3 separate regions of the Homo sapiens genome follow, and all the other regions are linked to region 1. Evidence: fine-mapped QTL for protein levels in blood plasma. A gene starts in region 1. Each other region holds a variant in brackets. All regions are shown on one strand. Distances are from middle to middle. Region 1 holds the start of ITGA11 (integrin subunit alpha 11). Region 2 overlaps ITGA11 (integrin subunit alpha 11). Region 3 overlaps PIAS1 (protein inhibitor of activated STAT 1).

Evidence for each region. PIP is the posterior inclusion probability: the model's chance that the variant is causal. Protein levels are from antibody-based Olink assays in UK Biobank. Linkage for the fine-mapping came from a reference panel and not from the study's own genotypes, which makes the PIPs less certain.
Region 2: its variant is fine-mapped to the plasma level of the ITGA11 protein (UK Biobank, PIP above 0.99). The variant lies in the coding sequence of ITGA11. If it changes the protein, the assay may bind it differently, which can mimic a change of level.
Region 3: its variant is fine-mapped to the plasma level of the ITGA11 protein (UK Biobank, PIP above 0.99).

What each region holds. Positions count from the first base shown.
Region 1 is chr15:68,427,906-68,436,312 of GRCh38, reverse strand. ITGA11 (integrin subunit alpha 11) reads left to right here and starts at 4,150. Exons shown (of 30, transcript NM_001004439.2): 1 at 4,150-4,298. The coding sequence starts at 4,247. RefSeq lists a silencer at 2,149-2,443 and an enhancer at 4,990-5,749.
Region 2 is chr15:68,356,814-68,365,220 of GRCh38, reverse strand. It overlaps ITGA11 (integrin subunit alpha 11), which reads left to right. Exons shown (of 30, transcript NM_001004439.2): 4 at 423-514; 5 at 3,517-3,631; 6 at 6,636-6,763; 7 at 7,922-8,070. Among named protein-coding and RNA genes, the nearest start is that of ITGA11, 71 kb to the left of the region's middle. RefSeq lists an enhancer at 1-432. The variant G/A (reference allele first, on the strand shown) is at 3,613.
Region 3 is chr15:68,097,881-68,105,880 of GRCh38, reverse strand. All of the region lies in intron 2 of PIAS1 (protein inhibitor of activated STAT 1), which reads right to left. Among named protein-coding and RNA genes, the nearest start is that of PIAS1, 48 kb to the right of the region's middle. The variant C/T (reference allele first, on the strand shown) is at 3,232.

The DNA of each region.
Region 1 (8,407 bases):
AAAAAAAAAAAAAAAAAAAAGCATTGGTCCTAACTGAGCCAAGGCCTCTGTCATCAGTACTCCAGACCACTGCTCGTTCTCCCTCCATAGAGAAGCCAAGGTCCTCCCAGAGGAGCATGCTCAGACTGAAATCTTGGGAGCCACAGAAGTTGCCAATAGGACCTGTCTCTGAGCTGACCATGCTCATGCAGTCTTGGCCTGAAATACCCGCTCCCTCCACCCAGTTGGGATGTTGGGATTAATACTCAATCTGCTTTCAGAATGCTGGGTTCCAATCTCAGTTCTGCCTCATAGATGATGTGGAATCTTGCGTGAATCTATTGCTACTTTGAGCTTAGATTTTTTAGTAACCATGGATTTGTCTGTCCAGTATACTTTGCCATCCCACTTTTTCTGGTTCCTTTAGGAAAGTCCTCTCCTGTAATATGTGGTTTTGATGGGGCTGTCAGTCATGGCGCCTTTCTCTTCCCAAGTCATGGGGCTGGGTGTGTGTCCCAAACTGAGCTAATTATAGCACCATATCCTCCAGACACTAGGACTGGTTCAGGGGTGGGCATGAACCAAAGCCCTAGACTTTTCTGCTGGATCTACTAAAGGAAGGCTGTCTCTCTCCCTTCAGAATCTATGAAGTATAAGCTTGGGACTGCTAGACAGTCAGAGAAACTCTTCTGCTGCAGGAAAGGAAAATGGAGTGAAGCAAAACTAAGAGAAGACAGAGAGAGAGCAGTAACATTGATTTGAGACCCTTGATCCAGCCACACCTGCAGACAGAACACCTTTGCACTTCCTAGTTACATGACCTTTTACATTCTATTTTCTGCTTCAGTTTGATTGTGTTGAATTTCTGTCACTTGCAAGTGAAAGAATCTTCAACTATACAATCTCTTTACTATAAAAAATAAATACAATTTTGTACAAGATGAGTATTAAATTAGATCATGGATATGAAAGGGATTTCAAAAATAGTAAAACACTATACATAGCACTTGTACATTGTTGGTAGGAATCTAAAATGATGTAGCAACTGTGGAAAATAGTTTGGCAGTTCCTCAAATGATTAAACATAAAATTACTATATGATCAGCAATTCCACTCCTAGGTGTATACCCAAGAGAACTGAAAACATACATTCATACAAAAACTTGTATGAACATTATGCTAACATTATGCTATGTTAATGGATGGTAGAACTGCTACCAGCAAGACCGGCAGCACAAGTGTTCATAGCCACATTATTCACAATAACCTAAAGTGGAAACACCTAAATAAGCCTCACCTGATGAATGGATAAACAAAAGGGGGTAGATCCATACAATGGAATGTTACTTGGCAATAAAAAGGAATGAAATACTGATACATGTTGCAACATGGATGAACCTTGGAAACATCATGCTAAGGGAAAGAAGCCAGACTCAAAAGGTCACGTATTATATGATTTCATTTATATGCAACGTCCAGAATAGGCAAATCCATAGAAATAGATTTGTGGTTGCCAGGGACTGGTGGGAAGGAATGGGGAGTGACTGCTCATGGTTACAGGGCTTCTTTTTGGGGTGATAAAAATATTGTGAAATTAGTGAGGATGATTTTACAATCTTGTGAATATACTAACAACTACTGGATTCTATGGCACAGTTTATGGCATGTGAATAAATAAATCAGTTAAAACACTGTGTACATGTAAAGAGTTATTATTATTATTCAACAGAAATCACAGCTTTCATAAAGCCCTTCACCAAATTCTCTGCAGTTCTCCAGCCTTAGAGTCTGGATTGTGCACTTGTCACTCATATGCTGCTGCCTTGGGTGTGATTTAAATAATGTTTAATAGTGATGAAATAATAAATGGTTTTAAATAGATTAATAAATAACAGATTATGATTAAATAAATACATGGTTATGTCTTGTCTCCTCAGCTCCATCACCAGCTGCCCTAGTGTGGGGTTCTCCTTCCGTGTGTCCTACAGAGCACAGGGGCACAGTAGGCACTCTGTAGGATCTGTTGAAAGAACAAATGAGGGCACACCTCTCCCCTCACCCTCCCACATTACACAAAAGCACACAGAGTGATCCTCAGGACCCCCATTCCCCAGGCACCTGTGAGGACGGTGAAGGTGAATGAATGGTAGAATTGTTACCAGCGAGACCAGCAGCAGCGCAGCTAGGACAGCCACTACAGTGCGCCCCTTCAGCAAGCAGCATGCAGACTCTGAGCACAAGCTGCAGACCACCCACACGTCAGAGGTGCCTGGGGCACCCACCAGCATGCCCTGATCCTTGGGGAATTTGCATTCTTTGCACGTGCTCCAGGTCGTTCTGATGCACCTGGAGATTTGTGCAAGGCAGGAATGTGGGCTGCAGCCCATTCCCTAGCTGTAGGGGTGTTCTACATTCAACTCAGCTGGCTTAAACTCAACTCAGTGAAGAGGACTCACTGTCGTATAACTGATAAGTCCCAAGGGGAGTGGGGTTAAGGGGTGGCTTCATTCAGGAGTTCAACAAGATCCTCCATTCTGTCATCCAGTGTCCACCTCATCTCAAGGCCAGATCCTCCTTCCCTACCCTGACCCTGTCAACTTCTGAGCCTACAAAGTTCCTTGTCCCAGGCTGGGAGAGGAGGCAGGAGTGGGAGAGGTGAGGAGAGAGAGTTAGTTCATTTGTTTGTTTGTTCTAGGGGCTCTTTTAGAAAGGCAAGAAAGCTTGCTTCCCAAAAAAACTTTTTCTTTTGTCATATTGCCCTTTCTGAAACGATGGGCTGGGAAGGGCAACATACTGATTCATTTCAGCCTGAACCGCATGCCTCCTTACACACACACACACACACACACACACACCAGGGACGGAATCACCTTCCCCGAGTCTGTGGCTGAATGGGTGAGGTGAAGATGAAGTAAAACCCAGATAGCCAACCGAAAGATAGTGAGGTTGGGAGACGAGCACAAGCCCACTTCACTTATGTGAACCTGGGTCTTCTCAAACTCCAGCTCATCTTCAGGGGCCCTGACTGAACATCACCTCCTCTGGGAAGCCCTTCCAATACCTCCCAGATAGAAAACTCTATCCTTTGTGCACCCACACACCACCTGTACTCACCCATCCATCCACCCGCCCACCTACTTTGTTCCTGGGTGTTAGGGGCTGAGTACTCCATTGTGAACCAGAGATTTCTACCCTGATGGTGTTTTCAGTCTGCACAGGAGAGAAAAGTTAAATGATCACACCAATTGATGCCTTGCTTCTCTACTAAGCACAATGAAGAGAAATGAGGGAGAGCGGGCTGGGGAATATCAGCATGTGTCTGGGACTCAACCTGGTGGGGACGGGAAGAGGGGGTGAAGGAAGCCTTTCCTGAGAAAGTGGGGGAAGGGCGCTCTGCTGTGGCTTTCCCTGCATCTTGGCCTTCCTACCCTCTGCCTCGGCTTCCTCCATTGCTGGAAAAGCCTCCACAAGCGCGGTGGAGGTCCGGGGCCTGGATTTAAAGCTCTTGAGATAAATGTGCATTGAATTTAACTACCAGTGATTAGAAGAGGGAAAGAAGGTGGCAGGGTTACAAAGAAGAGCTTCACGTTAGGTTAAGAGGGGGTGCACGGTGTCCCTGGGTGCTTTGGAATGCCTCAGGTGTGGAGGCTCAGGGAGTGGCAGTGGAGGCGAATCTGCATGTATTCCAGGGTCAGAAGAAACACTAGCCTCTACAATTCAAGCCGCAGGGTGCAGGGAGACACGGGGATGTCTTAGAATGGACCTTTGAGGGACATCCACTCACTTGGCCAAGGGAGACCTGCGTTCCAGCAGGTGTTCCTGAGCCAGCTTGGGTACCCTCTGAGTTTTGTGAATCTCTTTTCACTGGGAAATGGGAATAAAAACCACTTTTCCTGAACAGAATCTGACTGAGGCGGTGCGGTGCTACACTGGTGAGGGGGTTCCCAGGAGCGGTTCTCTGGAGTTTTCTCCAGAGGCTGACGTGGGGTTGGCGGAGAAGGAGCGCTGCACAGGCGCGTCGAGGCAGCGCGCCGCCTGCCCAGGTGGCAGAGCGGCCGAGACTGGCCCAGAGCCCGAGCCGGAGTGGTGTCCGGCGCCCCTCCCCTCCGCTCGAGCCCTCCCACTTCCTCTGAATGAGCCGCAGCTGTCAGGGAGCCCGGCGCCCCGCGCAGTGCAGGCTGCAGGCGCCGCGCCGAGGAGGCTGCCGCTCTGGCTTGCCGCCCCCCGCCGCCGCTGCACACCGGACCCAGCCGCCGTGCCGCGGGCCATGGACCTGCCCAGGGGCCTGGTGGTGGCCTGGGCGCTCAGCCTGTGGCCAGGTAGGTGCCCACCCTCTGCCTCCCCTTGCCTCTCGGAGTCCCTCCCTGGGCCCTCGGGGCTTGGATCCAGCGGCCAGGATCGGGACGCGACCCTCCTCCCAGGGTCAGACCTCAGCTGCTCTTGGGGACGTGGGTCCCCCAGGGACTGGCCCCAGTCTAGCGGTTCAGTCAAGTTTCGCTAAAGAGGGAGGTGCGAAGGCTATTGAAAGCCGGGACTCTTTGGTGTGTTTGGGAAGAGTTGAAGAGGCTTGAGTTGAAAAGCTCCCAGATCTGGTGGCCCTCCTGGGCGCCTTAGGTGCCTCCAAGGCCCATGCCGGGGTTCCCGCACGGCTGCCAGGGGCACTCGGGTGTCCCGGGAGCGCCGAGGGCGCACGGCCCCGGCTGGGGAAGGGAATCAGCGCCAAGAGAGTGTGCCCTGGCTGCCCTCCTGCCTGGCTCCGGGGAAGCATCTCAAAGTTTGGAGAGCCGGGCGCGGCGGCCCCGGAGGGCTGAAGGGTGGGGGTGAGGGCTGCGCAGAGTGCCTCCGGCCAAAGACAGAGCAAAGCCCCGGGGCGATGGCCGGTAGGCGGGGGCTAGCTCTCGTCTGCCCGGCCAGCAGCGGCGGGACACAGTCGCGCAGCGCAGGACCCCCGAAACGTTACCTGACACCCGGGGTAGGGACCCGGCATTGCCTCCCAACCCGCGCTCGGAATTATGCAATTATTCAATAATCTGGGGAAAGCCGCCGTCGCCTAGACGCGCGCCGCCGCCTAATGCACTCCAGGTGTCGGGGCGCGGCAGGAACCTCCGGCCCGAGGGGCGCGCGGCTGGGAGCGGGAAGCCAGCCCTGAGCTCTCCGCCCTAGGGTACCCTGGCCCCGGCCGTCCCACACCGGGCTCCCCGGCTCCACCCTCCACGCGGGGCGGCTGCCAGTGATGCTGTTCTGCGGAAGACGGCCAAGTGCTCCGGCAAGGGCCAGCGCCTCGGTTACTGGCCGGGTGTGGGCGCTCAACCTTGCCTCCCCTTCTGCGTGGGCTCCAGGCCCGAGCTGGGGCCAGTAGTGGGGGTCAGATGCGGTGGTAGTGGGAGAGGTGCCCTCAGGGAGCTCAGGTGGAGACCCCTATCCCGCAGCCGCTTGCCCCAGTCCCCGGGTACCACGCGAAGCAAGTCCACCCTCCTGTCGGCCTACAGAGGAGCTTCTCAGAGGGCCCATGGTTGAAAGGGCCTCTGGCTAGTGGAATCCTAGAGTCACAGTTTAAAACAATCATTGATACATTGAGTTGTGGGGGCTTGGAAGGGAGAGCAGGGGAAGAACTGCCACCAGGCCAATATGCAACTAGAAGCCAGCTGCGGGAGGAGGCCAAGCCCATTTAGGTGTGTTTAGACAGGAGGGGAGAATCTTCTCCAGGAACTGTCCTCATATCACTAGGAGATCCAGCCACAAGAAAAGAGACGCACTCCTGTGTGACTCCAGATAGGTGGCTGCATCAGAACCTTGGGAAGGAGTGGCTGCCTTAGGGGCTAGGGACAGCCTGGACCTCAGGAAGCTAAGAGCAATGGCTTTGGAATCAGACCTGGCTTCCACTTCTGGCTCTGCACCCTGCTAGCTGTTCAATCTTGGACTGGTTATGCGACCTTTCCAACAGGTTTCCTTATGTGAAGAATGGAGACACAAATTCCGTGTCCTGTAAAGTTGTCAGGATGCACTAAGGCACTGTAAGAAAGGCCCTTAACACAGGGCTGGGTGCACAGTAGGCTTTAATCAATGGTTGTTAATGTTGTTGCTACTCAAGGAGGAGGGGGCAGAGAATGACATTAAAGGACCTCTGAAGACACAGGATTTGTGACTCAGAGCTCCGCTTATATGGCGAAAACCACTCCTGAGTTATGTCTGGTCAGTTGCATTCTTGAAATATGGGATTCATTAAACATATCAATCAATGTTGGAACAATGACATCTGCTTGCAAGGAGCTGGGGGTGGGGCCCTAGCGTGTGTGCAATCTGGGTCCTGCCTGTAACTGAGAATAAGCCAAGGCCAGGGAAAGCTAAACAGAGGCACCAGGGAGTGAATGGCTTGGGGAAACCAAGGGCTGGGTGTTCAAACAAGAGAAGTTCAATTTCAGCCAGATAAGCAAGGAAGGCTTCCTGGAGGAGGAGATATCATTTGAACTGGCCCTGGAAAAGTGTGTAGAGTGTGCATGGGCCTGAAAGTGGGAATGTTCATATTTTGGAGTATTATTTTCTGAGACTAGTTAAAGAAGATGATGAATATTTTAAAACCACTCTGGTCAGTGTGGACTTTGAAGACTAGAAGGGTCTCAGGGATCATTGGGTTCACTCCTCAGGCTCCAGGACAGGACTGATGTTGATACCTCATCCATGCATCACATGAATTCAATGTGAGGATTACCAGGAAGCTTGTCTACTGGTGATGGCAGTTTGGCTGGGCAGGGAACCTGTCAGAGGCCAAGTTGAGGGTGAGACCTCAGAGCATCTACTCTCCCAGAGCTCCAGCTGCAGGCTGGACAGCGTGATGGGGTAGACAAAACTAACAGGAAAGCCTAAAAAAAAAGTAATCAAGTCCAAAGAGAGAGATCCATTGACCAGAGCTTTACAGTCATAACCTATCTGTAGGAAGGGTGATGATTCTTAGAAGCATAATCTTTGCTGAGCACCTGTTATCTGCCAGGCCCCATAAAGACACAAAGTGAGATCAGACACAGCGTAAGGGTGGAGGCCCTGGAGTTTCACTGCCTGGGATTGGCCTAGCCCCTGCCGGTTAGGGCTCTGTGCTCTTGGCAAGTTACTCCATGGCTCTGTGCCTCAGTTTCCTCACCTACAAAGTGGGGGTAATAATAGAACTTAGAGTTATCACAAAGATTAATGCTTAGAAAGTGCCAGGCATGTATTAAGCACTCAAGGAGGTTGTCTTCTCCAACATCATCAGCAGCAGCAGTAGCACTCAAGATATTGACTATTCAGGATCTAAGGACACAGAGATATAACTTTCAAACTCAAGTTCTCAAGAGAAGTTTAGAGGAAGTACATTGAAGAATCAGAGGAGACATACATGCCAGGGCCCCAAATGAGTGAAGACTTTCCTAGTCCCTCCCGCAAAGCCCTGGCCCAAACTCTTGATCATAATAAGAACTCAGGGTTGTTGTTTTGTTTGTTTGTTTACCATCGGGGCTGTCTTGAAGTCAGTATGCTCTTGATGTGGGTGTATTGTGGTGTGGAAAAGGAGAAGGCCCATACCATGCAACATGGCCCTTGTGGGTAGGGGTCCTACCCAACAGAAAGCAACCTGTGGAAAAGCACAGTGCTAGACACCACAGGTGTACAAAGGCTCCAGAGGTCCAAGACTTGCTCCCAGCCTCTCCTTCCCAGTGGAGAGCAGGGAAGAAGGGAAAGTTTGTCACTTTGCCACCCCATTGCCCACTTTGACAGCCAAGCCCCTCAGCTGCCATTAGCTGAGGAGCTTCTGGATCTTTCCATATCACAAGCAGACCCTGGAGTCTCACTCTTTTTCTGCTTACTCACCATGACCCCATCTCTACCCCACAGTGGACCCCCAGAGAGGGGATGTCTATCTCCATGCTCTTCCCACCATTCCCAGCCCATCCACACAGGGCTGTGAGCCCTGGAAGAACTCAGACAGTATCTTACCTCTCAACCTTGCCCTCTCTGAACCTCTTTTTCCACCCTCCTGTAGTGGGGAGCTCTTCCTTCTTCTAACAGCAGGGACCTTCCCTTGCATTCTCCCTCCCTTCCACCAACACCCCCAGCTCCTATCACTTAGGATAAAAATATGTTCTAAGCTGAGCTGGCTTTGCTCTTGCTATGCAGAAGGGAATTTGGGGAATTTTAAAAGCCCCTGTTTCTTCTCCACAATGCCTGACTTTGGGTGTTATTGTCTCACCATGGGCTTCCAGAGCTTACTTTGGGGGTCAAAGTCGAACATTGTTCTAGGATCCATCATAACCCTCCCCAGGCAGTGATGGGCTCTGGCTGACTCAGGGAAGGTCAGCTACAAAATGAGCCTTAAAAATCCTCTAATATGGTTCAAAAATGGTATCTCTGCTGATCCTCATCACTGAAGTCCCCTTCCAGGCCCACCCACTCCCCACCA
Region 2 (8,407 bases), 71 kb after region 1:
GACTGGTTAAGTGTGGATGGGGGTCAACTTGGAAGAAAGCGTAGCGGGGATACTGCACAAAGGAAGCCAGCCCAGGTGGGATGCCATGGCATGCTTGGGGGCACACGGGGAAGTGGGGCTCCAGTCGGATGGCTGGAGGAGGAAAAGCTGTGGGCTAGGAGATAGAAGGCTCGGTGAGTGCTCACTGTGTGACCTTGGGCAGGTTGTTTGGCCTCTCTGAGACTCGGTTTTCTCATCTCACAGGCAGTTGTGAGGATGTCCTGAGAGTACGTCTGGGGAAGGCCTTTGTAAACCCTGAGAGCCAGAGGTCCCCAGGGTCAGGGAGAATCGGGGAGGCACCTCGGGTGACCAGACCAGCAGCAGGCTCTGGGCAGAGGGCGGGCAGGAGGGGGCTGCAAGCTGAACTTCTCCCCCAACCCCAGGAAGGGTCACCCTGTCCAACGTGTCCGAGCGGAAAGACAACATGCGCCTCGGCCTTAGTCTCGCCACCAACCCCAAGGACAACAGCTTCCTGGTAAGAGCCACCTGCCACTGCTTGGGGTCAGGAGAGGCAGGGGTGGGGGTGGGGAGGGGTGGAGCGTCTCCTTACACACCCTCATGTCCATCCTGTACACCCACTCTCCCCCACTCCAACCACCAAGCTGCCTGGCCCTGTGCATTCCAGGAAGCAGCTCCCCCGCCAGCTCCCTGCTTATGCCATTCCGGGTGGCAGGGCCCTGGGTGTTTTGGCAGGGACAGTCCAGGCAGAAGAAACAATTGAGCCCTTTTGTGTGCATATCCCGAAGGAGGGAGGAACAGCCAGAAAGGGGACAAGAATAAATGTAGATAGCCAACAAGTCTGGTGGGGGACTGTCCCTTTCCTTGGGGAGCTAGTTGTCTGGGCTGGAGGTCAAATCTCTGCTCTAGGCTTGAAAAAAGAAGCAGGCTGCACCACACACCCAAAGAAGACTTGGAAGGGATGCCATAAATGAGTAAACACAGACTACCACAGCCGAGGGAAGGGCTACAGAGTGACAAGCCGTCTCAACTATCCAGGATTAGATGAAGAAGGCTGGAGGAGGTTTCTGTTTTGTTTTTAAAGAAGAGACAGGCCTTCGCAAGGAAGAAAAGGGCATGTCTGGGTTGAGGTGGTAGAAACATTCATTCATTTAAACAATGATGTTTCTGAGCACTTACCATAGTATGTGCTAAGCCCAGTGCTGGGCACCGGGATTCAGCAATGAATAGAGACCCTGTCCTGCTGGAGCTTACACTGTGGTGGAAAGAGAGGCGACAAGCAAACGAGTAATGTCTAATAGGACTTTGGGGGACAGACAGCAGCAGGCTCTGCTTACAGGTCTCTGTTCTGTGCCCAGGTGAGCACATATGGACTCTGCACATGGTAGTGAGTGTGGGCGGCACAATGGATTGGCACTGCCTGCTCCTTGCCACCACCTTGGAGTGAGCTGCGTTGAGTATGGGCGATGCTTGGGGTTCAAACAGGATCCTTCTGAGACTGATGGTTCCTAGAAACAGTTGCAGGAGAGGACTTCAGAGAAAATTTACCCCAGAAAGCCCAGTACAAATTACTGCCCATTTTTAGATGGGGTGCTTGTGTCAGTCTTTGTTCTGGTCTATTTCTGCTGACAAATGAGACATCTGGGGCATGAATCACAAGACAAATTAGATAAGACAAATAAGACATAAAGATAAGACGATGACTGGGATGCAAGGGGACTTGAGTGCATAGTGGCCCTGCCAGGGAAAGTCATGAGGTGCCTTGATGTATATTCAGCCCACAGCCCTTTATTAGCCATAACCAGAGGCAAAGCAGGACCCCTGGCCCTATCCACACACATATCCGTCAGGGGCTTTGTCTCTACTCCCTTTTCCCTCTCAGGCTCCTTATCACATTTCTTCTTCACAAGGTGGTATGAAGGTCTGAGAGGAATGGTGTGATATATTCTCTGGGGCCTCTGTGAGTAGGTTAATCCTTGGTTTATAGATAGTCACCTGTTCATTGATTCACTCATCTGTCCATTCCCCTCTCAACAATTCATTCCTCCATTCATCTATCCAACCACCCATGCATTCATCTACCCATCTGTCTATACATCGATCCACCATCAATCTCCCATGTAATCATCCATCTTTCCATTTATTCCTTCCTGCATCCATCCATCAACCTCCATCATCTATCATTCATCCACCCATCAATTCATCATCCATCCATCCATCAACCATCCATCATCCATCTGTCATTCATCCACTTATTCATCCATCATCCATTCATCCATCATCCATTCATCCATCATCCATCCACCCATTCATCCATCAACCATCTATCATCCATCCATTATCATTCATCCACCCATTCATACATGGATCATCTATCCATCCATCATCCATCCACTAATTCATCCATCATCTATCCAGCCATCATTCATTCACCCATTCATTCATCATCCATTCATCCATCATCTGTCCACTATCCATCATCCATCCATTATCCATTCATCTATCTGTCCATCCATTCACATCTATCCATCATCCTTCCATCCATCTTCCATCCATTTATCCATCCATCCATTCATCATCCATCTATACATCATTCATCCATCCATCTATACATCATTCATCCATCCATCTACCACCCACTTATCCATCCATCTATCATCTGTCTATCCATCCACTTATCCATCCATCCATCTATCCATTCTTTATTCCCCTCTGTCCCCTGCCACTTCCAAACATTATGTACAGCAGCTTCAACAAAGTACACAGATAAAACATAACCTTTAAGATCTGAGCTTAAAAAGAAAGTAATTAAAGAAAGGGATCGGAAGTAGAATAATTACTCCCCTAAACCAAAGGAAATTACAGCACAAAATTTAGCTCTGGGTTTCCTGATAGCAGGATAACAATGGAAGCATGGAGCTGAGCTTTCATTTTTAATGACAATGACTCTGAGAAGAACCCTTCACTCAGTCCTTCAATGGGGACTGACATCAGTGTTTTTGGTAGAACATTTCACAGAAAGAATACAGACATTCTTATCTTCCCCTGCCCCAGTATGAGCCATGGCATGTTTTTGGGACCCAGTCCTAGAAGTTTGCCCAGTAAGGCCCTTCAGGCGACCTCTCAGACAGAGGAGTTATTCTAGTGACCCTTGAAGTGTTCACACCCGTGGGTGAAAAGGCTTCCCCAGATCCCGTATGGTGGGTGGGTGAGTGGGGTGGGCAGGTAGGGTGAAGAAGTATCATATTCCTAAATGATGAGATGGAGAACAGGGCCTTGAAAAAACAATGAAAGAGACTCCAAGATCAGTTTTTCTCCATTAGACCTGAAACCAAAGGAACTAGTACACATTGCAGCAAGAGAGAGTTCAGTTAGACCCAAAGAAGATCCCTCACCCCCTCACCCCTCAGATAGAAGTCTGTCTTGGGTCGTGGAGGATGGGAGTGGGCCTCAGGCCATTGGACCTCGATCCTCTCTGAGGTCCCCTCACTGACTGGGGATCTGCACTGCCCTCCCCAGGCCTGCAGCCCCCTCTGGTCTCATGAGTGTGGGAGCTCCTACTACACCACAGGGATGTGTTCAAGAGTCAACTCCAACTTCAGGTTCTCCAAGACC[G/A]TGGCCCCAGCTCTCCAAAGTAAGTGGCTTCAAATCTGCAACCTCAAGCTGAGCAGTGGACAGTCCAGAGAGACTTGGGCCCTGAGCACAACAACCTGTGGCTAGAAAGCAGTATTTGGACTCTAGCACTGTCCTGCCCCAGCTCTCCGGATGACCTGGAATGTATCACTCCACTCTCTGGGCCTCTGTGGGAGTCATAATCCTGGCCTCCCTCTCCCAAGTGTGATGGTGGAGAGCAAATGAGCTAAGGTTTCAAAGACAATCCCAGCCTCAAGGGAGGCTCACTGCAGAAACCCTGGGTATATAGGAGGTTACCTGGCAAGCACATGCAGCAGACAAGCTGTGCACTGCACAATTCTGGGGGAATTGTTCACTTAGACATATGAATGGCGCCCCCTGATGTTGTGCAATGCAGTAGCCTTGTAGATGAAGGAACAGGGAGAACAGAAATCTCCTTGGTAGTAGTTCCACCAAATCAGTGCTCCTGGACAGCAGGGAGTTCTGTCCAGCTCGTCCAGAGCCTCATGGAACGTAAAACCTCTTGCTCATTGCCCACCTGCGAAGAAAACCTGGGGAATTACTGCTCAGACCCTGCCTCCCACAAGCCCAGACTTCTTGGCTCTGAGCCTCACTATTTCCTCTGCACTAAATACCATCACCCAAGCAGCTGCTGCCCGTTTTATGGAGGGTTCGGGAATTGGCACCTCTGGCTTGCCTGCAGCCGCCCTCCAGACAACAAGGCCGAGTCAGATGGGGCTGGGGAAGGGAGGAGGAGGAAGCATCAGTCCAGCAGGGGCAGAAAGGTCGTCTTTCTGGGGGATAATGAGACATGGATTCTATTCACACAAAATGACAGAGGAAATGGCAGAGCCAGGGCACAGGAGGAGGCCTGAGGTCAGGGTACGTGAGGGGCCCACCGGGGAATGTCACCACCCCTAGAGCTAGTCCCTCCAGGCCTAGATGTGACCATCCTATGGTCCCTGAACCTCATGTGGTGGAGGCCTCCTCACCTGGCTGACCAGCAGCATTGCTCTGAAGCTTACCAAATGCAGATTCCAGGGCACCCCATGTGGGTCCTAATTCAGTAGGAGTATGTGCAAGTGTGTGTGTGTGCATGCGTGCGTGTGAGTGTGTGTGTTTTTAAGCTCCCCAAGGGAGTGTTCAGCCATGTTTAGGAACCGTAGCCCTCAAACCAGTTTGTTCCCAAGGTATCTTAGAAAGAAAAATGTGAAATTGTAAGAAAGAAATCAACAATAATAAATGCATTATAATAATAAAGCTGGCTTAAAAATAAAAATAAAAATAACCTGTTAAAAGATTATGAACTCCTCCAAATCAAGGAATTTCTGTCTTGGTCACCCCCACTGCTGCCTGCACCATGCAGAGCTCCAGCACATAGCAGGTGCTCAGTCCACATGTGTGGAGCCGAACTAAACCAGAAAAGGACAAATGTATGAGGCTCTGCCAGGCCAGGAGTGTCAGGTCATCACATGCTGTACACAGTATGCAGGTGGGACAAGAAGTGGCGGAGCACTCAAGTTGCCCAAATGCTTCTAAAATGCTCTACTAAACACAAAGCCTGCAACAGGCGTCCCAACTCAAAGCCACCCCCACCTTCCTCTGTCTGCTCAGCACTGACTTCAACATAGTGCCTCTTCGAAATGCAAGAATTACTGGAACAGTTAACACACAAAAGGTTCATGCAGCATTGTTATAAAGTAGATTTTATAACAGCATAAAAAGTCACCAATAAAAATGAGCAATGCCCAGACGCAGAGTGTATGCATTATTTCAAAGTAACTCCAACTGTTGACAAACAGAAATAAATTACTTAGATTTTAAAAGAGGAGGGTTTTTTTAATATTTGTTATGGCCAATATTTTCTTAATTTTCTTTGTTGATTTTCATTATTCCTTTTAATTTAGTTTTTTTTTTATTTGTTTGTTTTGTTTTGTTTGTTTTTGAGGCAGAGTCTCACTCTGTCACCCAGGCTGGAGTGTAGTGGCCCGATCTTGGCTCACTGCAACCTCTGCCTCCTGGGTTCAAGCAATTCTCATGCTTCAGCCTCCCGAGTAGCTGGGATTACAGGTGTGCATCACGACTCCTGGCTAATTTTTGTATTTTTAGTAGAGACGGGGTTTCGCCATGTTGGCAAGGCTGGTCTCGAACTCCTGATCTCAGGTGATCTACCCACTTCGGACTCCCAAAGTGCTGGGATTATGGGTGTGAGCCATGACTCCCAGCCTAATTTAGTATTAATATTACAAAAGCATAAAGAAACCTTTATATTCAGAGGCAGAGATAATGGCACGAGAGCTTGACCTGATGATATCAGTACCATATTAACTCAGTGGTTTCCTTAAAAAATAAATAAATAAATAAAAAGTGAAACCATGATCAGTTCAGATTTATTGAGCATTTGCTTTGTGCTCAGCCCTTTAGAAGCATCTTCTCATTAATTACTCTAGGCAACTCTTTACTATTGTTGTGCCTCTTTTACAGAAGAGAAAACTGAGGCTGAGAGGTTTTGTGACTGACCCTAGGTCACATAGCTAGGGAGTGCCAAAGCCAGGAGTCAGTGTGATGCCACATCCCACATTTCTAGCCACGACATCATATCTCCCTCCTAAAAACAGAAATCCATTCATTTGGGCTGAAAGTGGTAAATGCCAGCCTGCTCATTACAGCAAAACAAACAATACCAAGGTACTGATTTGAGCAGTGCTGGCTGCCTCGGAAGCGTTGGCCGATTGGTAGTGGTCAGTCTCTGATTAGGAATAGAAGTGATCAGGCTTAATTTAAGCTTTGTTCAAACAGCCAGCAGAGTGGTAGAACACAGCCAGGAATTCCTGGGCTCACTCACATTGCCCAAATAAATGTCCAACCCAAGGACAGTTTCCCAGCCCAGGGAATTACACATATGGAGCAGAGTCATTCATTTGTCCTTTGAACAATTGTCCAGAGAATCAGAGACTCGCAGACACTGCTCCTTGGGTAGCCATAACTGTGTCCCCACTTTCCAGGGTGCCAGACCTACATGGACATCGTCATTGTCCTGGATGGCTCCAACAGCATCTACCCCTGGGTGGAGGTTCAGCACTTCCTCATCAACATCCTGAAAAAGTTTTACATTGGCCCAGGGCAGATCCAGGTGAGCATCTCTTGGGCTCTTTCCACTTCTGAACAGGGCCACCCAAACCCATGGCAGGTGCTGCCTTAGGTCTAAGAGAGATCTTTGCATGCACGAAGGAGGTGTAGGTAAGAGGGCAGAGGTAGTAGGGCCAGCCAGCACTGGGGCACTGCAGCTCAGGACACTCCTCTCTGGTGTAGCACATCAAATGACATTTTGGGGGAAGCCTCACTTCACGGGTCAGACACAAGACACCACCTGTGAAGACTTAGACAAGCTAAAAAGTGACAAGGAAGGTGGGAATGGTTGAGTGGAATCTAGAGCCCTGTCGAGTGGGGCACAGGGGAGAATTAGACATACAGGTCATGGAGGGAAGATGGTAGGAGAGGTAAGGGCTGCTAGGCTCATATATCTGAAACGCTGCCTGGCTAACGCGGAGGTAGATTCATTCCCTTTTATTCTGCCTGAGTGAGGACTAATGACTAGAAGTTATTAGATGGCAGATTTCAAGTCAATCTAAGAAATTATTTGTAACGATTAGGGCTGTTAAAAAGGGAGTGGACTTTCTCATGAAGTAATGAGTTCCCCATCACCAGAAGATCATCTTTTAGGGTATCATGGGTGAAAGTCCAGCATTAGAAGGGCACGTGTGCCAAATAAACCCTGTGGGCTCCTCCAACAGGAACGTTTCATGGTTCTATTCCTACTATAGGTCTTGAAGCTTTTTGTTTATTTTGATGCTATTAATATTGTCATTATTTTATCATCCATGGGGATAAAAGAACCTCTTACAAGTTTTAAGGAACCTCAGTTTTGGAGTTTGGTAAACACTGTGACCTTCCACCCACACTATTCATAATTTTTTGGACTTAGACTGATTCTCTGCTCTGCTTTTGTTTTCCTAAGAAAGAAGCATAATTGTTGGGCCTTTCTTTCAATCACGAAGTCTCCATTCTCTATATGCACCCCTTCTTGTGCCACCAAGCTGTCCATTCATTCCTAGAACTTTGCAGAACTCACTTCCCTTTGGCTGTGGTTACTTTCTTGGAAAGGTCCTCAGCCCTCCTCCCTCCTGTATTATCACACAGAGACAACTCCCGGGGATCCTCACTCTCAAATTCTAAGGTTCATGGGTTCATGGGGTCAAAATGTTCTGTTGCCCTCTCCTCTCCCTTGCAGGTTGGAGTTGTGCAGTATGGCGAAGATGTGGTGCATGAGTTTCACCTCAACGACTACAGGTCTGTAAAAGATGTGGTGGAAGCTGCCAGCCACATTGAGCAGAGAGGAGGAACAGAGACCCGGACGGCATTTGGCATTGAATTTGCACGGTAAAAAAAAAGTAGAACAAAAAAAATTTTTTTAGATCTCAGATGCTATTGTAGTTATCTATTGCCTTGTAACACACTACCACAAAATTTAGTACCTTGAGACAATAATTTCTTAATTCCTCAAAATTCTGGAGTTTGACTGGGCTCAGCTGGTCGGTTTTCTCTTGGGTCCTCTCAGGTAGTTGCAGTCTGGTGTCACCTTGGGCTGTTGTCATCTGAAGGTTCTCACGTGGCTGTCAGTTGTTGTTGGCTGTTGGCTGAGAGCTCAGGTGGGACTGGTGACCTGAGCACCCACACGTAGCCATGTGGCTTGATTTCCTTGTGGCATGGCAACAGG
Region 3 (8,000 bases), 330 kb after region 1:
CAAGCCACTATCATTAAGAACCATAATTTCATTTTAAGGTTACTGTTAGTTATTTATTTAAAAAAAATTTTTTTTAGAGATGGCGTTTTGCTATGTTGCCCAGGCTGGTTTGGAACTCCTGGGCTCAACCGACTCTCATGCTCAGCCTCCCAAGTAGCTGGGACTACAGGTGTGCACCACTGTGCCCAGCTATAATTTCATTTCATACAGATTAAACACATTTCAGAGGTTTAATCTATAAAGCATAACTGGGGTAAAACTAGAGGTGAAATGCTAGATTGGAAAGCAAAGTGAAAGGAAGCTGCAGACTTAGAAAGGCTAAAATAGATTACTTATGGGGTAGTAAAAGCTCCAGATTCTTTATTCCGGAAACACTAAGTTAAATGTCACTCTCCAATTCTGATGTAGCAAACCTAGATCATATGGTGGGAAAGTGAGAAATATGAGAAAAAAATCATGTACATAAATATAATCTTGACTTGAAATTGACTTCAAAAGAACTCCACGATCTACACAGGCATAAGGAAATTATACAGAAATATACCAATAATAAATACAAACAAATGGCCTGATTTACTTATCTAAAAGTAACCTAGATAAATTCTAGAAAAACTTCTGAAGTAAAAATATAAGTTAGAGTATTAAGATTATCTGGTAAATAGTAATATATTATCTCTGCTAAGAGGAAGTTAACAATTCATATCCTGAGTGAACCTGAAAACCTGAATTTCCTACACTTCTAGATGGATGAAACTGCAATGTGGCAAATTAAATATTGTTACAGCTCAGCTCTCTTGGCTGAGCTTTAATACAATTCTCAATGGAGTCATCAGATTTTCTTAAACCTAACCCACCTACCCTGAGTTGAATGATTGCTTCTTAGCTATACACTATAGTCCTCTCAAAATAATCTAAAGTAAAGCACTAAAGACAAATATTTTCTTCATTCAATAGCAATTCTTTCATAACTTTAATTATTGTACCTATTAAGATTTTGGCTGTCACTATGCAATGTGGGAAAATGCTTCTTCTGTCAGAGACCCTTATGTAAACTTTGTTACATAATTGCTGTACATATTTATGGAATATGTATTTTTGTACATGCATACAATGTGCAATGATTAAATTAGGGTAACTAGGATATCCATCACCTCAAACATTTATCATTTCTTTGTGCTAGGAACACATCATATCTTCTCTTCTGGCTATTTTGAAATACATAATAAATTCTTATTAACTACAGTCTCCCTCTGGTAACCACCATCATCACTACCTCCATGAGATCAATTGTTTTTAGCTCCCACATATAAGTGAGAACACGAAATATTTGTCTCTCTGTGGTTAATATGAATTTTGAAGAAACAACTATGAATACATGTCTGATAGAATAAATTAGTGAAGAGGAGAAGAGGCAAGACACAGTAATTACTCTTAAAAGTTGTTGATGTTGGTAGTAAAATTTAGGCTTAAATGTGTTGGGTAAAATTTCAATAGTAACTACCTACAGAAATAGAAGGCAGAACTCCCAAACCATTAGAAAATAAAAGAGAAACAAAGTATAATTCATATCACAGAGGTCAGAAAAAAATGACAGACAACAAATTAAGATGGCAGAACAAAGACCAAATGTAACAACGTTAGCATAAAATGAGAGTAAGTTAAATTTTAAGACTGAGTTTTTAAAAAGCCAGGTACGTGCTATTTGTAAGAGAGAAATCTACTACAATGAGATGTCACTTCACACCCACTAGGATGACTATATTAAAAAAGGCATATAATAACAAGTGTTGGTAAGGATGTGGAGAGAAATGCGAATCCTCATAAATCACTGGTGGGAATATAAATGGTACAGCTGCTTTAGAAAACAGTCTGGCAGTTCTTCAAAGGTTAAACAAAGTTACCATATGAGCCAGCATTTCTAGTTCTAGGTATTTAACCAAAAGAATTGAAAACATATTTCCACACAAAAAATTATACACGAATATTCATATTAGCCAAAAAGTGGAAACAACTCAGATGCCCATCAACTGATGAATGTATAAACAAAATGTGGTATATCCATATAACGGAATATTACTTGGCCATTAAAAAGAACAAAGTTTCGGCACATACAACTTTATGAACTTGAAAACATCATTCTAAATGAAAACAGCCAGTCACGGAAGGTCATATACCATACGATTCCATTCATATGAGATGTCCAAAACAGGAAAATCTATAAAGACAGATGCCGTATTAGTAGTTTCAGGGGATGGGAGAGGTGGCACTAAAGAGTGATTGATAATGGGTAGAGAGGCTCTTTTCTGGGTGATGAAAATGTTCTAAAATTGATAGTGATGGTGGCTGCACAACTCTGTGGATATAGTAAAACCAATGAATTGTACACTTTAAAGGAATATATTTTGTGGTATATGAATTATATGTCAATAAAGCTATTTTAAAACAAAAAATCAAAAAGAACCCAAAAATAAACACCACAAAAGGTTGAAAACAAAAGAACAAAGTTTATGTCAGACAAATGCTAACGAAAAGCTTAAAAAAAAAAAAAGGATAATAATACAAAACATGGTAGATTCAAGGGCAAAAGCCTAAACACAGAAAAAAAAATATCATTTTATCTTGAAGCTTTCCCCCTAAGATCAAAATCAAAGAAGGGTCAGGCAGAGTGGCTCACACCTGTAATCCTAGCTCTTTGGGTGGGCGAGGCGGGCAGATCACTTGAGGCCAGGAGTTCGAGACCAGCCTAGCCAACATAGTGAAACCCCATCTCTACTAAAATACGAAAATTATCTGGGTGTGGTGGTGCGCACCTATAGTCCCAGCTACTCAGAAGGCTGAGGCAGGAAGATCACTTGAGTCCAGGAGGCGGATGTTGCAGTGAGCCGAGACTGTGCTACTATACTCCAGCCTGGGCAACAGAATGAGACCCTGTCTCAAAAAAAAAAGAAATAAAAATCAAAGAAGGATGTTCACTGTCACCACTATTATTCAACACTCTATTAGAGCCATAAAGCAATAAGGCAAAGTAAATAAATGGAAGGCAGCAGGCAGATGGTTAAGAAATAAAAACTGTCCCTGTTTGCAGAAAACAAGGTAGTCTATGAAGAAATACCCCTCAAATTTACAAAAAACTTCCTAGAACTATAAGTGAACTCAGCAAGGTCACAAGATATAATCACTCAGAAAAAAACAAAATATTTAAGTACAGGTCTAACAAAACAAGTGTGGGAA[C/T]TATATACTGAAAACTATAAAATGCTGATGAATAAAATTTTAAAAAAGATCTAAACAAATGGCAACATACCATGTTCATATACTGGAAGGCTCAAAATAGAAAAATTATTAATCATCCCTAAATTGATATGCAGGTTTAATGCAATTCCTATCAAAATCCCAGCAAGACTATTTGTAGAGCGAGAAGATAATTCTAAAATTTGTGTGGAAAGGCAAAAGAACTAGAAGAATATTTAAACAAAGTAAAAGCAATTACTCTACCTAATTTTATGACTTATTACATAGTCTGACATAGTAATCAAGACCATGTGGTAATGGTGGGAGACAGAAACACTGATCAATGGAACAGAACAGAGGACCCAGAAAGAGACCCACATAGGTACAGACAATGATTGTTGATAAAGATGCAAAAGTAATTCAATGGAGGAGGACGGCCTTTGCAACAGGGGTCTAAGAACAGTTAGATCTCCATAAATGAAGCTCAATCTCAATCTCACACCTTATAAAAAGTAGTAACAAATGGATCACAGATTTAAATGTAAAATGTAAAAATAAAAACTTTCGAGGAAAAAAAAATCTCCAAATCTAAAGTCAGGCAGAGAGGTTTTTGACTTGGCTAGGCACTGTGGCTCACGCCCATAATCTCAGTGTTTTGGTAGGCTGGGGTGGGAGGATCACTTGAGGCCAGGAGTATGAGACCAGATCCCGTCTCTACAAAAAGTAAAAAATAAATTAGTTGGGCGCGATGGCACACACCTGTAGTCTCAACTACTCAGAAGGCTGAGGCAGGAGGATTGCCTGAGCCCAGCAGTTCAAGGCTGCAGTGAGCTATGATCACATGCCACTGCATTCCAGCCTGGGTGACAGAGCAAGTCAAAAAAGTGGGGTGGGTGTGCAAGTGGGGTTGTTAGACTAGAAACCTAAAACACAAATCTAACAAAGAAACAAATCAGTAAATGAGACTTCCTCAAAATTAAACATTTTGTTCTATGTAAAAAGATCCTATTAAGAAGACAAGCCAGGCGCAGTGGCATGCATCTGTAGTCCCAGCTACTCAGGAGGCTGAGGCAGGAGGGCTGCTCGAGCCCAGGAATTTGAGATTAAGGTAAACTATAATCACTCTTGTGAACAGCCACTGCACTGCAGCCTGAGCAACACAGTGAGATCCCATGTCAAAAACAAACAAGGAAACAAACAAAAAAAAAGACAAGTTACACCACAGGAGAAAAGATCTGCAAACCACAAACCCAACGAAGGACTAGAATCTAGAATCTAGAAAGAACTCTGAAAACTCATAAGTTAAAAAAAAAAAAAAAACACTGCAATTAGAAAAGACAAAAGACATAAAAAGATATTTCACTGAAGAGGATATTCAGATGGCAAATAAACAAATAAAAGGATGTTCAACATCATTAGCTATTAGGGAAATGCAAACTAAAACCACCATGAAGGCCAGCCACGGTGGCTCACACCTGTAATCCTAGCACTTTGGGAGGTTGAGGGGAGAAGATCACTTGACTCCAGGAGTTTGAGACCAGCCTGGCCAACATGGTGAAACCCTGTCTCTACAGAAAATACAAAGAATTAGCCAGGTGTGGTGGCGTGTGCCTGTAGTCCTGACTACCTGGGAGGCTTGAGAGGCGGGAGGATCACCTGAGCCAGGGAGGTTGAGGCTGCAGGGAACCATGATCATGCCACTGCCCTCCACCCTGGGTGACAGAGCGAGACCTTATCTCAAAAAAAAAAAAACAAAACAAAAACAACAACAAAACACAATGAGATATCACTATACTCCTATCAAAATGGCAAAACTAAAAAATAGTGATAGCATCAAATGCTGACAAGGATGCAGAAACACTGGATCATTCATTCATGGCTGCTAGGAATGTAAAATGATACAGTCAGTCTGGAAAATAATTTTGCAGACCTTTTAAAACTAAAACTAAAACTACCATACAGCCCAGCAACTGATAACCCTTGGGCATTTACCAGAGATATAAAAATTTATTTTTGCACAGGAAATTGTATATGAATATTCATAGTAATTTTATTCATTAACAGCCAAACACAGAAAACTACACTAATGTTCTTCAGCTGGTAAATGTTTAAACAAATGAAACTACATTATATGATAGAATACTTCTCAGCGCCCCCCTCCCCGCCCCTTAAAAGGAACAAACTAGTGATATACACAGCAACTTGGATGAACCACTGGGGCTAGAGAGAGTGGGTGAGGTTATCAAAAAGTTAGCAAGAGGGAGTCTTGTGGGTGACAGGACAGTTAGGTATCTTTTATTGTGGTGGTAGTTACATGTGATAAATCTGCACAGAGCTACAAATACACATGACTGCAAATACAACTAATAAAATCTGAAAAGCTCTGTGTATTGTACCAATGTTATGTCCTAGTTTGGATACTGCACTATATTAAGAAAGATGTTAACAATGGAGAAGGCTAGGTTAAGAGTACACAGGATGTTCCTATACATTTCTCAACTTCCTACAAATCTGTAATTATTTCAAGATCAAAAGGTGTTTTTTTTTTTTTTTTCCCGAAGAAATACAAGCTACAGACTGGAAGAAAACATTTGCAAACTACATCTCTGACTAAAACTAGTATCTACAATATGCAAAGGAACTCTCAAAAGTCAATAATATAAAAACAAGTAATTCAATTAAAGAATGAGAAAAATATGCACAGACATTTCACCAAAGAGTATAAGTATGTCGACAGATGGCAAATAAGTATGTGGAAAGATGTTCAACATCATTAGTCATTAGGAAAATGTAAATTAAAACCAAAATGAGTTATCGCTACATACATACTTAAACATCTAAAAATAAAAAAAGTGACAATAACAAATATGCTGGCAAAGACAGAGAAAAACTGGACCTCTCATACAATACCAGAAGAAACAGAAAGTGGTACAGCCACTCAGGAAGACAACTTGGTATTTTCTCCCAAAAAAAAAACCCCCAAAAACCCATATACTTACACATATGACCCAGCAATTCCATTCCTGGGCATGTATTTGGAGAAAAGAAAACTTATGTCCATACAAGCACCTGTACATGAATACTCAGGATAACATTATTTATGATAGCCAGAAACTGTAAACAACCAAAATGCTCTTAAATAATTCGAATAGTTAGAGAAATTGTGATATATCCATACCATGAATCATTACTTAGCAATAAAAAAGAACTGATGGCTAATGTGCAACACCAATCATAAAAAAAACTCAAAAGACAATCACAATGGAAAAAGTAGTCACAACTTATATCACAAAGTGCTAAATTTCTTAAGTCTATAAAAAAGGGTAAAAAGCCCAACCACCAAATTTCAAAATAAAAAGCTCAAGGAACTTTGAAGAGTAAAAAAAAAAAAAAGAAATATATATACATATATAGTCACCCAGCCTGAGTGACGAGAGTAAAACTCCGCTCATAAATAAATAACGATGTGCTTTTATAATTTAAAAAATATATTTTTAAAAACAACAACAACAACAACAACAAACTTCACCCTCACCCATAAGAGAAGTGCAAGTTAAAACTATAATGAGTTATAAATTTTCGCTGTTAATTTGGAATGATCAAAAAGTTTAATAACACATGGTATCGTTGAAGGCACAGGAGGAAAAAACAGTCTCTTACAGAGCCTGTAAGATTATAAATTAGCAAACACACCTTTCTCTAGAGGGAAATTTGGCAACATCTACAAAAAATATTTAGATGCACTTTCTATTTCTAGGAATTATAAAACTACTGGCTATATTTAGACAAGTGCATAGTGATATATATCACAGAATATTCTCTACAGCAATGTTTTCAACAGCAAGAAACTACCCAAATGTTGACCAACAGGGGAATATTTAATAACACAGAATCCAACGAATCTATTGCCTACTAAGTAGCTGCTAAAAAAGAATGAGGCAAATATGTTTGTTTGTAGGTGCAGCAGCTACCCCAGTAAAAATATAAAAAGAACTGAAAGCAACACCTGTGACTGAAATAAGGGTGAAAGAGGGACTTCCTTTTCATTGCAAACCCTTTTGTAACTTTTGAGTTTTGTACATCAATGTATTATCTATTTAAAAATTTAAAAACAATCAAAAAATTAAGTACAATTGACCCTTGAACAACACAGATTTTAACTGTGTGGGTCCATTTATACACAGATTTTCTTCCACCTCTGTCACCTCTTAGACAGCAAGATGAAAATCCTCCTATTACTCCTCCCCTTTAGCCTACTTAATGCAAACATAACAAGTATGAAAACCTTTATAATGATCCACTTAATAGTAAATATATTTTCTTTCCTTATGATTTTCTTAGTAACAGTTTCTTTTCTCTAGCTTACTTTGCTGTAAGAATACAGTACACAATACATACATATACAAAATACGTGTTAATCAACTGTTTATGTTATTGGTAAGGCTTCTGGTAAACAATAGGTTATAGTAAAGTTTTGGAGGAGTCAAAAGTTACATGTGAATTTTTGACTGTGTGTGTTGCAAAGGTGGCATCCCAATCCCCTTGTTGTTCAAGGGTCAACTATACAATAATTCCATGTTAGCAGAAAAGTATACAATTAGACCAGTGGAACAGAGTAAGATCTAGAATAATATTCAAAGGAAGTTTTGGGAAAAAAATAAAATTAGAGCCCTATACTCATGTAAACAAAAATAAAATTCAGAATTGATTAAAAAACCCCACAAATGTCAGAAGTGGAAAATGTTATTTACTCCTCTAGGAGGTAGCATAGG